Regions from separate parts of the Homo sapiens genome. Here region 1 is linked to region 2. Evidence: fine-mapped expression QTL. Tissue or cell type: sun-exposed skin. Region 2 holds a variant in brackets; the other region holds the start of a gene. All regions are shown on one strand. Distances are from middle to middle.

Region 1 (8,000 bases), 380 kb before region 2:
ATAGAGAGGCCTTGTCTCTAAATATAAAAAATTTAAAAAATTAGCTGGGCATGGTGGTGCATGTTTGTAGTCCCAGCTTCTCAGGAGGCTAACATGGGGGAATGGCTTGGGCCCAGGAGTTCAAGGCTGCAGTGAGTTATGATCTCACCACTGCTCTCCAGCCTGGACAACAGAGTGGGACCCTGTCTCAATTATTTATTTATTTTTCTTTTTTTTTTTTGAGATGGAGTCTTGCTCTGTTGCCCAGGCAGGAGTGCAGTGGCATGATCTCGGCTCACTGCAACCTCCGCCTCTTGGGTTCAAGCAATTCTCCTGCCTCAGCCTCCTGAGTAGCTGGGACTACAGGTGTGTGCCACCACGCCTGGGTTATTATTGTATTTTTAGTGGGTTTTCCCCACGTTGATCAGGCTGGTCTTGAACTCCTGACCTCCGGTGATATACCCGCCTCGGCCTCCCAAAGTGCTGGGATTACATTCATGAGTCACTACACCTGGCCTGAAAAAATTAATTAGTTAATTAACAACACAAAGGAAGAAGGGTGGTTGGTGAGGTAAAATTAATTAACAGCACAGAAATGTAGAGAAAATCAGGTTAAAACTGATAGAGATGATGTTTCCTGGGGTGGCCAGGGAGGCAGCTTTTCAGAAGGGGTTAGACTTGAGTCTAGCCCTAGAAGGAGGGTAGGGCTTACAGAACATTCCAGGCAGGGGAAAGTGGGTAGGTAACGAACAGAAAAGCCATTGGTGTTCCATGGATATGGAATAGATAAATTTGCTCAGAGTAAGATCCTCCAGAGGTGAAGTGGAGATTAGGTTGAAGAGTCAGCAAGAAGGGGCCGGGCACAGTGGCTCACGCCTGTAATCCCAGCACTTTGGGGAGGCCAAGGCAGGCAGATTACCTGAGGTCAGGAGTCTGAGACCAGCCTGGCCAACATGGTGAAACCCCGTCTCTACTAAAAATACAAAAATTAGCCAGGTGTGGTGGCAGGCGCCTGTAATCCCAGCTACTCAGGAGGCTGAGGCAGGAGAATCGCTTGACCCCGGGAGGTGGAGGTTGCAGTGAGCTGAGATCACGCCATAGCACTCCAGCCTGGAATGCGAGACTTTGTCTCAAAAAAAAAAAAAAAGAAAAGAAAAGAGTCAGCAAGCAGGGGAGAGTTTGAAGGGCCTTGAATAGCAAGAAAAGGAGTTTGGACTTGGTTTCATGGTCAACTTAAAGTTACATAGCTTTTTGAAAATAGGGGAATATGTTCACAACATCATTTAATATTAAAGTAAGAAGAGGCAGGCTGGGTGTGGTGGCTCATGCCTGTTATCCCAGCACTTTGGGTGGCCGAGGTGGGTGGATCACCTGAGGTTAGGAGTTTGAGACTAGCCTGGCCAACATGGTGAAACCCATTTCTACTAAAAATACAAAAATTAGCCAGGTGTGGTGGCGGGCGCCTGTAATCTCAGCTACTCAGGAGGCTGAGGCAGGAGAATTGCTGGAACCTGGGAGGCGGAGGTTCCAGTTGCACTCCAGGGTAGGGCCAACAACAGCGAGACTCTGTCTAAATAAATAAATAAGCCAGTCATGATGGTGCATGCCTATAGTCCCAGCTACTCGGGAGGCTGCAGTGGGAGGATCGCTTGAGCCTAGGAATTTGAGGCTGCCATGATTGCACCACTGTGCACCAGCCTGGGTGACAGAGTGAGACCTTGTCTCAAAAAAAATTAATTAATTAAATAAATACAAAATAAAATAAGAGGAGGCCAGGCATGGTGGCTCATGCCTGTAATCCCAGCACTTTGGGAGGCTGAGGCAGGAGGATGGCTTGAGGCCAGGAGTTTGAGAGTAGCTTGGGCAACATAGTGAGACCATCTCTCTACAATAAATAAATAAAGAAGAGGTGCAATAGCCAGGTGTAGTGGTGGTGCCTATAATCTCAGCTTTTCAAGAAGGATATTAAGGTGGAAGGATTGCTTGAGTCCAGGAGTTTGAGGCCAGCCTAGGTAACATAGTGAGATTCAATTTCAATTTAAAAAATAAATAAATAAAAATAAATTTAAAAAGAAGAGACCAATGTTTGCAAGGTGATTCTTTGAGATAATTGGTCTCCACCTTTCTTTTTTTTCCTATTTAATTTTTATTATAGGTTCAGAGCTACATGCACAGGTTTGTAGGCCAGGTGCAGTGGCTCACGCCTGTAATCCCAGCACTTTTGGAGGCTGAGGCGGGTGGATCACGAGGTCAGGAGTTTGAGACCAGCCTGGCCAACGTGGTGAAACCCCATGTCTACTAAAAATACAAAAAATTAGCCGGGTGTGGTGGCTGGCACCTGTAATCCCAGCTACTCAGGAGGCTGAGGCAGGAGAATGGCTTGAACAGGGAGGCAGAGGTTGCAGTGAGCTGACTGTGCCACTGCACTCCAGCCTGGGCAACAGAGCGAGACTCTGTCTCAAAACAACAACAACAACAAAAAAACCAGGTTTGTTACATAGACAAATTGTAGGCCATGGGGTTTGATATACAGATTATTTCATCACCCAGGCAATAAGTATAGTACCTGATAGGTAGTTTTTCAATCCTCTCCCTTTTCCCACTCAATCTCCAACTTTATTTTGCCCCCGACTTGGAAAGCCTTTCCTTCTCCATTTTACCTAAATTAATCTCAGACTCTGGTTAAGACCTGTTTAAGTTCTAACCCATGCTTTCAAAAAACATAATAGATCTCTTCATTTTCTGAGGTCTGGCTTCCATCTGGCAATTTGCCTGTTATTTCCCTCAGTAGTTTGTTAGTTCCTAAAAAGCAGAAACCATGCTGATATTGTGTGTCTTCTTACCATGACTAACAAGTGTTACATTTCTTTTAAAACAAGGAAGCAAACTACAAAGCACCAAGTGCATGATCTTAATTTTATTTATTTATTTATTTATTTGAGATGGAGTCTTGCTCTGTCGCCCAGGCTGGTCTTGAACCCCTGGGCTCAAGTGATCCTCCGACTTCAGCCCCACAGAGTAGCTGGGACTACAAGCTCACGGCACCACTCCGGGCTAATTGTTGTTGTTGTTGTTGTTGTTGTTTTTGAGGCGGGGTCTCTCTCTGTCACCCAGGCTGGAGTGCAGTGGCAGGATCTTGGCTCACTGCAACCTCTGCCTCCTGGGTTCAAGTGATTCTCCTGCCTCAGCCTCCTGCGTAGAGGGGACTACGCATCCACCACACCCGGCTAATTTTTGTATTTGTAGTAGAGACGGGGTTTCATCATATTGGTCAGGCTGGTCTCGAACTCCTGACCTCGGGTGATCCACCCGCCTCGGCCTTCCAAAGTACTGGGATTACAAGCGTGAGCCACCGCGCCCCGCCTGAAAGTCTTTATGTTGTAGTTGTTTTGTATCTATTCCTCATCTTCCTGGGGACAGGGATACCATTTTACACATCTTCCCACAATCAATCACAGTGTTTAACAATTACTGTATGTACTCTATGAATAAGATACCTGAAGATTGATTCTCTTTATCGTTAATGTGTGGACTGTATCAGGCAAAGTAAAACCCCTATCATCAAAAGCCTAAAGTTATTAAAGGGAGTGGAAGAAGGCTATCGGGACATATTTTTCTCGAAGGTGTGACATCACAAATAAAAGAAAATTAACGTATAGTGAAATCATCACTGTAGTTAGAGTCAAAATGCCTTGCCTGTGTTCCAAACTTTGGGCCAGTCAACCTACAGGGTGCACGGTTTCCTCATTAGTTTCTTCAGAGAGTAAATGAGACATTGCATAAGCTAGCACCTAGCATACAGCAGGCAAATACTGCTGGATTTCTTTCTTCCACTAAATGAGAAGAAAATAATGACTCCCACATTTACACGTTTTAGAATATTTTATTTTGCGTCAGCGAATAGAGAAAACAAAGGAGGGATGAGAGAACAGGAAAGGAAAGGGGCAAAAAGACAAAGTGTTAAGCGGATTGACCCAACGCTTTCATCGATATCCTCCTCAATTTCCTTGATCTTGGGTCTCGCTCTACACGCAGGCCTCCAACCACACCGGTCTGTCCGGATCTCCCTCCCCGTCAGTGGCGGCTGTCCCCACCACGCGCGGTCTGATCCGCCACCCCGCCCCCACAGCCCACTTTTCCCAGGCCCTTGGCCATCCCGCGCCCGGTAGGAATTCACCTGCACGTAAACAGCCAGGGCAACCGTCCTCCCTCCTTGGAGCCCGCCTCCCGCGGCCCCGGGCTCCCTCCCCCGCCCCCTGCGCCACCCCGGTGCCCCGCCCCGGGCGGGGAGAGTCGGGGCGAGGGGAGGGCCTGCCAGGTGAGGCGCGGTCACCCTGGGCCTCTCACTTCCGCCCAGGTGAGGCAGGGCCGACACCGAGCCCGCCCGACCCGGGCTCCCACCTGCTCCTCCAGCGCACCAGGTAAAGCGTGAGGTCCCGGCTGTGCAGTGCGCGCTCGCCCCTGGGTGTCCCCGCGCCTGGAGGCCGGCCGGGGGCAGCTCCCTCGGGGCTTCCCGGGCCTGCCTGCCCTGCCCCCGCGCTCTCCCCGCCCGCCCGCCTGGAGTGGGTGGGAGCCGGAGGTGGAGGGCGCCGCCGGGCGCTCAGAGGGGCCGCGGCGAGGATGGGGCGCCCGCGGCGTGCGTCCGCGCTGACCCGGGAGGCGGGGCGGGGGCGCCGTCCTCCTGCGTCGGGCCCGGGTGACCCCACGGTGGTCCCCGCCCCGCCGCGCAGGGCTCGCCGAGGCCGCGGGCAGGGAGGGGCGCCGCCCCGCCTCCCCAGGCCTTTCGGGCCTCGAATCTCGGCCCACTGGTATTCGGGGGTGGCACGGATCCTATTTTGCGCCCAGATCGGTGCCCCTGTTTCGCTCCCAGAGCTGGGCGGAGTCTTTCCCTCCATCGGTGGCCGTGGAAGGAGGGAACGGGGTGAGGGGACAAAGAGGAGGGGGTGCTCAGAGCCGGGCTGAGGGGGCGACTTGGGCCCGGCCGCGTCGCGGCGCCTGGTCATCCCGTAGCGGAGGTTCCCAAGCCAGCGGTCAGGCCCTGGGCTCTGCCAGCCTTGCTGCGTAGATGGGGAGGTTCTGTCGGAAAGTGCTTCCAGCCTTAGGGGAAATTCCTGGACTCCTGCTTTTAAATCAAGCTCAGGAAAGCATTTTCAGATCACTCCCACTCTCCAAAGCGCCCCAGCCGTCCCGCACGCAGGCCGAATTAAGTGAACACCCCTTCACTTGGCACTTTGTCATATTTCCAAGTGGCTCTTGTCACTTTGAATTCCAGTTGGTTGTTTACTGGCTTGCCTCTGCCATTTAGAGGGTGCCCCTTTCAGGGCCTTATTTTTCGACTGCATTTAGGGTCTGGCTATTGGTAGGTGCGCGACAAGTGTTTCTTAAAGGAAGGCAGAAGCCTTTGGAAACCCAGAAGGACAATGTCGGTTCCACTGAGGATGATACTACCACATTCTGGGCTAAATTCCTATTGGCTGCAAATTAATTTGCACACATCTATTTGAAAGGAGTGGAGGCAGGGGCAGCGGTTAAAAACTTAAATCTGTTTGCAGCATTAGAAAATGTTAGGTGAGATTGAGCCTTTTAGCTAAAGTGAGCTTTGATGTTTTTAGGGCCCCTAATGGCCTTTAAGATGTTAACAATAACAACAACAACAAAACACTCCAAATGTGTTGAATTTATTTGGGAATGAGAAATGAGCGTTATAGCCCGAGGTGCACAGGCCTGGCAAGCCATATATGCATGGAAGAGGGGAGGGTAAAAGGAAACTTTTATTGGCAAAGTAAGTGCAGATAAGCTGCGTGAAAACAGAGTTTATTGGTTTTGCAGACTGAAAGCCAGAGTTGGCCATTGTTGAAGATGCCATTACTGGGCAGGTGTTATGGAGAGCATCTTATCAGGCCTGGCAACCTGCCTCATGCCTGTTATCTCAGCTACTTAGGAGGCTTAGGCAGGAGGATCGCTTGAGGCCAAGAGTTGGAGACCAGCCTGAGCAACATGGCTGTCTTTACAGAAAAAGCTTTTTAAATAGTCAGGTGTGTCGGGAGGTTGAGGCAGGGGAATTGCTTGAGCCCAGGAGATGGAGGCTGTGGTGAGTGGTGTTTGCACCACTACACTCCAGCCTGGGTGACAGAGCAAGAACCCTGTCTCAAAAAAAAAAAAAAAAAAAAAAGGAAAAAAGATTATCTTATCTTATCTTATCTGAATTACTGCATTCCTAAAGAAAGAATTTCTTGGGTGGTTATTTTAGTTCCTTCTTGAGACCGATCTTTATCTCAGACTTGCAAGCATGAGCTTTCTCCCTCAGGCTCTCTAGTTTGTTTGGGTTTGACAAAAAGTGATTTTGACCTGGTATCTGCAACTTTCACAAAGATAATAACAAAGTTAATAAATATGGAAATACTTATGGATAGAACTTATAAAATGAGTTCTGAAGAGATTTGCCCTTACTAGTCCAGATCCTATTAGGAGTAAGAGAAAAAACACAAACTTTTTCCTCTGCTCTCACACCACTACAGTCAACACTGAGGACTTCTGTGACCAAATAAATGTGTGGGCCCATCAGTTCTGCATCAAGCAATAGCTGAGCATCTAACAGTTCGATTCTGAAACTATTTACCTGGGGATAGTGTCAGATCCCATAAGACTGCCCTCACTTCTGATGCCAATCACAAGTCCTAGATTGTTTTACCCCGGCTTCTGACTAACCACCTATAAATTGGGAATCCCATAACTCCCTCCTCTGGGTTGGTTAACTTGCTAGAGCAGCTCACGGAACTCAAGAAAACACTTATTTAGGTTTATTACTAGTTTATTATTAAGAATATTACAGAGGATACAAGAGGAAGAGATGCACAGGGTGAGGTATGAGAAGGGGCATGCCACCCTCCAGGAACCTCCATGTGTTCAGATATTGAGAAGCTCTCCCTACCCCATCTTCTTGGGCTTTTTATGGAGACTTCATTGAGTAGACATAATTGAAGCATGGGGTAGGGAAACCCAGCAATGCCTATCTGTTCAGATTTTTCTTGGCCTCTCTCTGTAGCATTCCTTCCTCCAGGGTATGGGCAGGACCCCTTCTTATGGGGGTCTTATGACCTACAATCAGACAAGGGAGATCAGATAATTTTTTTAAATATTTATTTATTTATTTATTTTGAGACAGAGTCTTGCTCCGCTGCCCAGGCTGGAGTGCAGTGGGTGATCTCAGCTCACTGCAACCTCCACTTCCCGGGTTCAAGTGATTGTCCTGCCTCAGACTCCTGAGTAGCTGGGATTACAGACATGTGCCACCATACCTGGCTAATTTTTGTATTTTTAGTAGAGACAGGGTTTTACCATATTGGCCAGGCTGGTCTCGAACTCCTGACCTCAAGTGATCCACCTGTCTTGGCCTCCCAAAGTGCTGGGATTACAGGCGTGAGTCACTGCACCTAGCCAAAATTATTTTACTTTATTTTATTTTAATTAATTAATTTATTTATTTGGAGACGGAGTCTTGCTCTGTTGCCCAGGCTGGAGTGCAATGGCGCTGTCTTGGCTCACTACAACCTCTGCCTCCCAGGGTCAAGCGCTTCTCTTGCCTCAGCTTCCCAAGTAGCTGGGATTACAGGCGCCTGCCACCACACCTGTCTAATTTTTATATTTTTAGTAGAGATGGGGTTTCACCATGCTGGCCAGGCTGGTCTCGAACTCCTGACCTCAGGCGATCCACCCGCCTTGGACTCCCAAAGTGCTGGGATTACAGGCGTGAACCACCGGGCCTGGCAATTATTTTTTTTTTTAAAAATTTTTATTCATTTATTTTATTTATTTATTTTTGAGACAGAGCCTTACTCTGTTGCCCAGGCTGAAGTGCAGTGCCGCGATCTCCACCCACTGCAAACTTCACCTCCCTGGGTTCAAGCGATTGTCCTGGCTCAGCGTCACAACCTCAGGTGTGCGCCACCACCACTGGGTAATATATATATATATATTTTGTATTTTTAGTAGAGACAGGGTTTTGCCATGTTGGCCAGGCT
Region 2 (8,265 bases):
CCAAGTGTGGGGGTTTTTCCTGTGGGAGGGAGGGCTTAGTGGGTGATATTTTGTGGGTTAGCAAACATCTTATATTTATTTGCAAAGCTGATGTAAGTGCCATTTTTTTTTAGCAAAGTATATTTCACTATATTTTTTTCATTGTAATGGCTGACAAAATCAAGATGGTAGACTGTATGGTTAGCCCCATGTGGTACATAATGAGACTATAGAAACTTATATGTGACCCCTAAGTCTCCTCTCTGGGTTATGGATAGGCCGCCTTAGTTTTGAGGTTAAAAGCATGACTTTTGGTCCCCTCCCTGGTTGCCTTATTTCTGAAGCCTCTCCAAGGCCTTTGTTCAGAAGGTGCTCTGATCTTACAGTTAGCACACAGTTACTTCTGGAAAGCTATTAGCTGCCTCCTGTTCCTCACTGGTGTTAAAAAATGAGTGAGGAAAATACCATTGTTCAGATAGGATTACAGACTAGCTGGCTTGTCTTAGGGAATCTTCAAAGCAGTCAAACCCAATAAACACCATATTAAGTTTGAAACACTTTTTTTTTTTTTCATTTCTGGCTTACATAATGGGCAGCAAATATCTAAGACATGGTGCTGCTGTAGGATTCCATGAGTTAATAGTTAGTGATGATATTGACCAGACTTATATCAACAAACGAAACAGTTGTCTAGCCAGGCTTCTTCCTTAATGGAAGACTCATCTTTGTTGAATGATTTCATTAAAGCCTTATTGTATACAGAAGATTAGAATGAAGCTACACAGAGGAGGTTCCATTGAATCTCACTCCAAATGGAGTTTGGGGAAAAGAAGGAAAAGGCATCTCAGACAGGGAAAATAGCATACACAAAGGCACAAAGAGGTAACAGGTGTTTGTGTGATTTAAGAAAAGTTTGGACTGATCGATAGGTAAGGTAGTGGATAGAAATGGATTTCTGTCCCTCTTGAGAGATGTATGTGAGCATCTTCTTATTTATTTATTTATTTATTTTTGAGACGGAGTCCCACTCTGTTGCCCAGGTTGGAGTGCAATGGCGCGATCTCAGCTCACTGTAATCTTCGCCTCCCGGGTTCAAGTGAGTCTCCTGCCTCAGCCTCTCGAGTAGCTGGGACTACAGGTGCCCGCCACCACATCCGGCTAATTTTTGTATTTTTAGTAGACACGGGGTTTCAAAACATCTTGGTCAGGCTGGTCTCAAACTCCTGATCTCAGGTGATCCACCCACCTCGGCCTCCCAAAGTGCCTGGATGACAGGTGTGAGCCCCCGCGCCCAGCCGCATCTTCATAATTTTTAAGTTCACACTCAAAGACAGAACTACCAAATTTAGAAGCTACATCATTAAATATCAAAAAAAAAAAAAACCTATCGTCTCCACTTACCTGGTATATGAATGTGAGTTGTCATATTTTGGAAACCTGGGACAAAGTATCAAATACTTTGCCCTAATCTTCTTACACAGAATTTTAATTTCAGAGGGTAGGAGTTTAATTCAATTTTTAAAAACAGTAAATATATCTTATCATCACCTTGTGCTTAAAATTATGGGTGAGATAGAAGAGTTTGCCCTATTTGGCTAATTAGAAGAAGGCTGGTAGCCGACTGTGAAAAGGAAATGTCTTCCCATCATGATGAGTTGAAGACTGACCCTGGTGGGCAAAAACAAGATTCCATTGCCAAACATTTTTACATCCAGACCCATTTAAAAAATCAGGATCTTGTAGGAACACAGATTTCCTTCTGAGCAGTTACAAAATAGGGAGATCAATGCCTTCTTTTGAGCGCTAAGGAGAATAAGCTCTTGACTTAATTCATAGAAAGTGAGTTCATTAAGAGAGAAATAACTTCTAGCTTTGGGGCCACCAAGTGTCTTTTTTTAAAATGACTTTCCCCCAAACCAGGAAGAAATTTCCTTACTCCACAGAGGAAAAAATACTTGCGAGATCTTTTCCTCAGCCAACTAAGGGAACACAGTCAGGCAAAGTGTACTTTTATAAACGTCTTGGGGCCGGGCGTGGTGGCTCACATCTGTAATCCCAGCACTGGGAGTTCGAGGCGGGCAGATCACTTGAGGGCAGGAATTCAAGACCAGCCTGGCCAAAGAGCCTGGTGAAACCCTGTCTCTACTAAAAATACAAAAATTAGCTGGGCATAGTGGTGGGCTCCTGTAACCCCAGCTACTCAGGAGGCTGAGGCAACAGAATCACTTGAACCTGGGAGGCGGAGGTTGCAGTGAGCTGAAATTGCACCACTGCACTACAGCCTGGGTGACAGAGGGAGACTCCTCAAAAATTACAATACAATGCAATAAAGGTCTTGGCAAACACACCTTTCTGAAATTTTTTAAAGGCAAAAGTTATAATATACTGTACTTCCTCAGTTCTGATTAGTTATCTATTATAGTACCATTTACTTAAATCATATCCTTTAAGGAAAAGTATAAAAACACTCCTTTAAATGTATATAGCCACTATGAAGTATACTGAGATCTACAACTTACTTTGAAATGAATTTTTTAAAAAAAGATGAGTGATGAATAGATAAATGGCTATGTGATAAAGGAAATATAGCAAAATACTCATTGTGAAATCTAGGTGCTATTTATATGGATGTCTATTGTATAATTCTTTCAGCTTTTCTATATATTTGAAGGTTTTCATATTTTAGGAATTAAAATATTAAACAACTTTCATCATAGAGTTAAGAAAATGGACCAAATTATAATTTATGAACTGATAACAGTGATCTTAGGCTTAGCTTAAAATTTTGATGCAGAATAATTTGGTAGAAAAAAATATTCATTATTTGCAATGTTTTCGTCTACATAAGAAAGGCCCTTCACTATGTATACAGTTTTTGTTGAACAGCCACTAGCCTTAAAAGACTACACAGTATTAACCTCACATATTCATTTAAATGAATAAAGGGACAGGTAATGGAGATCTAGCAGATTGGACTAAATTATTACTGATTCTAGGAAAATCTTTGAGAAAAAAATGTTATATATCCCTAAAACAAGTCTTTTTCCCTTCAGATTTGGTGCTTTTTTCCCCACAATTGAGGGTTCTATTTTGGCAGGTTTCTGCTAATCAAGGTCTTATTATACTTGTTTTAGCAAAATACATAATACATTTTGGGTAATAAAGTTGACTGTAACCCCAAATGAAACATAGTGCCCATTAGCTGACTATATATACATAAACACTATGTGGCAACCTAGGAAAATGGTTTTGATTTTATGTGGAGCAAGAACAGCTGAAATGATTCTATGGTCTCCACCTTGGTGATTGAAACCATATACAAAAGCACACATAATGGAGAAAGCAATGGAGGAAATGTCTAAATGGGATTGGGTTGAGGTAGTAAGAGAATAGTGTGGGTGATTTTTGTTTTCTTTCCTGGCCTCCTCACGATTTTCTGTTAGATGGTTATGGTGACATCAGTAATTGGCACACTAATGGATAAGTATGCATTTAGGGGGTCAAGTCAGTGTCTGCACACAGGTGACCCCTGGGTCTTTCTTTCAGGGTAGTCAGCAGAGTGCACACAGCAGCTGTCATCCCTCCTTCGCTCCTGTCATCACTGGCCTGCAAAACCTGGTTGGCACAAAAAGAGTTTCAGATCCTTCCCAGAAAAATTCAGGTATTACACGGACACACCCAGAGCAAAACTATCCTGTTACCCAAATTAAAAAAAAAAAATGTGTTTTTTAAAAACCAGTCTTCTTTAATATAAATGTTTTTTAATTTTTTGAGCTTGGCCACATAAGCTGAGCTTTCTGAAAGGCATGTTCTGAAGGTAGGAAAGCCATAGAGATTCCTTCAGTGGTGGCCAGGCATGGTGGCTCACACCTGTAATCCCAGCACTTTGGGACGGCTGTGGCGGGCGGATCACCTGAGGTCAGGAGATCGAGACCATCCTGGCTAACCCCGTGAAACCCCGTCTCTATTAAAATACAAAAAAAAATTAGCCGGGCGTGGTGGCATACGCCTGTAGTCCCAGCTACTCAGGAGGCTGAGGCAGGAGAATTGCTTGAAACTGGCGGGGGTGGTGGAGGTTGCAGTGAGCCAAGATCGTGCCACTGCACTCCAGCCTGGGTGACAGAGCAAGACTCCGTCTCCAGAAAAAAAAAAAGAAATTCCTTCAGTGGCACAACACAAAGCACCTGAAAAACAGAAAAGCAGAAAGCTGGAGTGCATGGTAAAATAAAATTACTTACAAAGAGAAAATTAATAAATTACAGGTCACTGGAGAAAGGTCAGAAGTGTGTATACCTTCTATGGGAAAATTGGGCCAGTTAAAAGAAAAAAAAAAGTGTGTATATCCTTGGGGGCAGGGTGGGACAAGGGGTCCTTTTAAGTCTTTTGTTGAATGGAGGGTTATCTTTGATTAAGGTAGAAAAAAATGTACAATGAAACACAAATGACTCAGCCGGGCCCGGTGGCTCATGCCTGTAATCTTAGCACTTTGGGAGGCCAAGGCAGGCGGATCACCTGAGGTCAGGAGTTTGAGAGCAGCCTGGCCAACATGGAGAAACCTCGCCTGTACTAAAAATACAAAAATTAGCCGGGCATGGTGGCACATGCCTATAATCCCAGCTACTTGGGAGGCTGAGGCAGGAGAATCGCTTGAACCCAAGAGGCAGAGATGGCAGTGAGCTAAGATCGGACCACTGCACTCCAGCCTGGGCGACAGAGTGAGACTCCATCTAAAAAAAAAAAAAAAAAAAAAACCACACACACACACAAAAATGAGTCATCCTCCAAGCATTTACTCACCATGTTCCAGGCAGCTGCTGCTATATAGCCCATCCACTTTTGTCAGACCAAATGGTTATGGCCACATTGATCTCAAACAGAGAGCACTTCTTTAAAATAGAGGACACAGCAGGCCGGGCACGGTGGCTCACGCCTGTAATCCCAACACTTTGGGAGGCCGAGGCAGGTGGATCACTTGAGGTCGAGAGTTTGAGACCAGCCTGGCCAACATGGTGAAACCCCGTCTCTACTAAAAATACAAAAATTAGCCGGGCGTGGTGGCAGGC[A/G]CCTGTAATCCCAGCTATTTGGAGGCAGAGGCAGAAGAATTGCTTGAATCTGGGAGGCAGAGGTTGCAGTGAGCTGAGATGGTGCCACTGCACTCCAGCCTGGGTGACAAAGCGAGACTCTGTGTCAAAAAAAAAAAAAAGAGGACATGGCCCCTGGTGACTTGGCTACCAGCTTGGATGCTGAGGAAGGGTACAATACCTGCTTGCTTTAGTGTCTTCTCTTGAAAGACCTAGAAAATGAAACCATTTTTCATGGGGCAATATTATATGCTAAATATATTATTTTTTAATATTAAAAAGTTAATTGTGTTGCTTCTTTATAGGCACAGATATGGAACCAAGGACTGTTGAGATAAACAGGGTAAGTCAGTCATTTTGCTGTATGTATTTTTCTGGTTTGTGTTGGATTTGCACTAAATGTACATTTTCCCCAATACAGTTTATTGGATTGTGAGTGTGCTCTTTCAAGTTACTGAGATAAAAATATGGTCTAAATAACATCAATAAATAGACTTAGAAAAGTACAGTAGAGCACAGAGATGACCTCTATGAATTTTTTGGCAAATCTCATCCACTATATTCTGTGCTATGTGTAAGTTTTATTTTTATTTATTTATTTTTTCAATCTTAGTCTTTTAACCTGTACATGTAAAGTTTTATAAAACAAAAATGGTATCATGTGGCACATACTAAATAAGTATTTTTTGAGAGCATATAGTATGATTTTTATCGATTTCATAGTACTCCATCTTATGAATGTGCTATAAGTTTCTTTTTTTTTTTTTTTTTTTTTTTTTTGAGACAGAGTCTTGCTCTGTCACCCAGGCTAGAGTGCACTGGTGCGATCTCGGCTCACTGCAAGCTCCACCTCCTGGGTTCATGCCATTCTCCTGCCTCAGCATCCCGAGTACCTGGGACTACAGGCGCCTGCCACCACGCCCAGCTAATTTTTTGTATTTTTAGTAGAGACGGGTTTTCACCGTGTTAGCCAGGATGGTCTCGATCTCCTGACCTCGTGATCCACCTGCCTTGGCCTCCCAAAGTGCTGGGATTACAGGCGTGAGGCACCGTGCCCGGCCAAATGTGCTATAAGTTTCTTAACCAGTTTCCTATTATTGAACAATTAGCATATTTCTCAATTTTTGCTATCTTTTATAGTAAAACATCTTTATATTTTTGCCCAAATCATGAGTAACTTCCTCAGGATTAATTCCTAGAAATGAAACTTGGGGGTCAAAAGCCAAGCTTGTTATTAGAGGCTTTTATACATGTTGCTAAATTTCCCTTTTGAGAAGATTATATAAGATGTATTTCATTCATAAATTTGTCGAACCCTGATTTTCAGACTCCTGTGTGATGATATCTAATGAAAGTAGACTCTTTTTTTCTTTTTCTTTTTCTTTTTGAGATGGAGTCACCGTGTTGCCCAGGCTGGAATGCAGTGGTGCAATCTCAACTCACTGCAACCTCCACCTCCTGGGTTCAAGTAATTCTCGTGCCTCAGCCTCCCAAGTAGCTGAGACTACAGGCACACACCACCACGCCCGGCTAATTTTTGTATTTTTTGTAGAGACACAGTTTCTCCATGTTGGCCTGGCTGGTCTCGAACTCCTGCCCTCAATCGATCCGACCACCTCAGCCTTCTGAAGTGCTAGGATTACAGGCATGAGCCACCAGGCCCGGCCAAAAGTAGACTTTTATTTTGCTCACTTTGACCTAAATGAGGGGTTCAAGAAGAAATAATGACCCTGTTGTAATCATGGTAATCCACTGCAGTAAAGTGATATCCAGCATAACTTACTTCTCTAGATTTAATGATACCTCTGTTTGAAGGCATTCTACCATTTATTAGCTGCATTAGTTTGCTAGATCTGCAGTTATAAAACACCACAGACTGGGTGGCTTAAACAGTGGGAATTTATTTTCTCACAGTTCTGAAGGCTAGATCCAAGATGAAGGTGTCTGCAGGTTTGACTTTTCCTGAGGCCCCCCTCCTTGGCTTGCAGATGTCCACTTTCTTGCTGTAGCCACACGTGGCCTTTTTTGTGTGTCACTCATCATCCCTGGTGTCTCTCCTATGTCCTAATCTTTTCTTATAAGGACACCAGTCACATTGGACTAGGGCACACCCTGGCCTCATTTTAAAGGCCCTATCTCCAAATACAGTCACATTCTGAGGCCCTGGTACTTGGGGCTTCAACATGTGAATCTTAGGGGGACCCAATTCAGCCTGTACATTAGCTGTACAGCTGGGTGCGGTGGCTCATACCTGTAATCCCAGCATTGTGGGAGGCCGAGGTGGGAGGATCACTGAGCCCAGGAGTTTGAGACCAGCCTGGGCAACATGGGGAAACTCCGTCTCTACAAATAATTTCTTTTAAAATTAGACAGGCGTGGTGGTGCATGCCTGTGGTTCCAGCTCCCAGCTATTTGGGAGGCTGAAGTGGGAAGATCGCTTGAGCTCAGGAGGTTGAGGCTGCAGTGAGCCGTGATCATGCCACTGCACTCCAGCCTGGGTGACAGAGTAAAACCCTGTCTCAAAAAAAAAAAAAAAAACAAAAAAAAACAAAAAAAAAACGCCATTAGCTCTATAATAGTTAGCAACTCAACCTCAATTTTCTCATCTGTAGAATGGGGGTGATAACACTAACTCACCTCAAAGGTAAATATTATTGTGTGGATTACATGAGGTCATGAATGTAATGTCTTTAGCATAGCACCTAGTGCATCAGGAATGCCCAGGAAGTGGCTTCTGTTGTTATTAGCTACAGCTTTGACTAAATCTGCCTTATTTGTTCCCGGTATTTTTCCACCAGAGTAGCAACTCAAATGTTCCTATGATGGGGAAGTTAAATGTACCAACAGTATATATAATTATAGATAAATTAAGGAAACATCATGATGGATTTAAACAAAGCCAAAACATTATTGCATAAATTTCTCCTCTAAGATTTCAAAAATAATATTCTTTTATATTTCCTTAGTCATTTCAGCCACTTGTTTTTACAGGCTTTTGTAATAAAGCCTGCTCCTACCTACCCTATTCTACCACACGTGATCCAAGCATAAATTTCTTTCTTTTTTTTTCCTGAGACAGAGTCTCACTCTGTTACCCAGGCTGGAGTGCAGTGGTGCAATCTCGGCTCACTGAAACCTCCACCTCCCAGGTTCAAGTCATTCTCCTCCCTCAGCCTCCCAGGTAATTGGGATTACAGGTGCGTGC

Which allele goes with the higher level. Alleles are on the strand shown, and positions count from the first base shown. SD is a standard deviation of normalised expression in the study named.
For the expression in sun-exposed skin of the gene that starts at base 4,325 in region 1, G is the high allele of the variant in region 2 and A is the other (small effect, 0.38 SD a copy in GTEx).

Evidence for each region. PIP is the estimated chance that this variant, and not a neighbour inherited with it, causes the effect.
Region 1: PATJ starts here. The variant in region 2 is fine-mapped to the expression of PATJ in sun-exposed skin (GTEx, PIP above 0.99).

What each region holds. Positions count from the first base shown.
Region 1 is chr1:61,738,156-61,746,155 of GRCh38, forward strand. It overlaps PATJ (PATJ crumbs cell polarity complex component), which reads left to right and starts at 4,325. Exons shown (of 44, transcript NM_001350145.3): 1 at 4,325-4,400. It overlaps PATJ-DT (PATJ divergent transcript), which reads right to left and starts at 4,629. Exons shown (of 1, transcript NR_185910.1): 1 at 3,843-4,629. RefSeq lists a silencer at 4,077-4,786.
Region 2 is chr1:62,117,656-62,125,920 of GRCh38, forward strand. It overlaps PATJ (PATJ crumbs cell polarity complex component), which reads left to right. Exons shown (of 44, transcript NM_001350145.3): 38 at 3,526-3,640; 39 at 5,366-5,403. Among named protein-coding and RNA genes, the nearest start is that of MIR3116-2, 43 kb to the left of the region's middle. The variant A/G (reference allele first, on the strand shown) is at 5,043.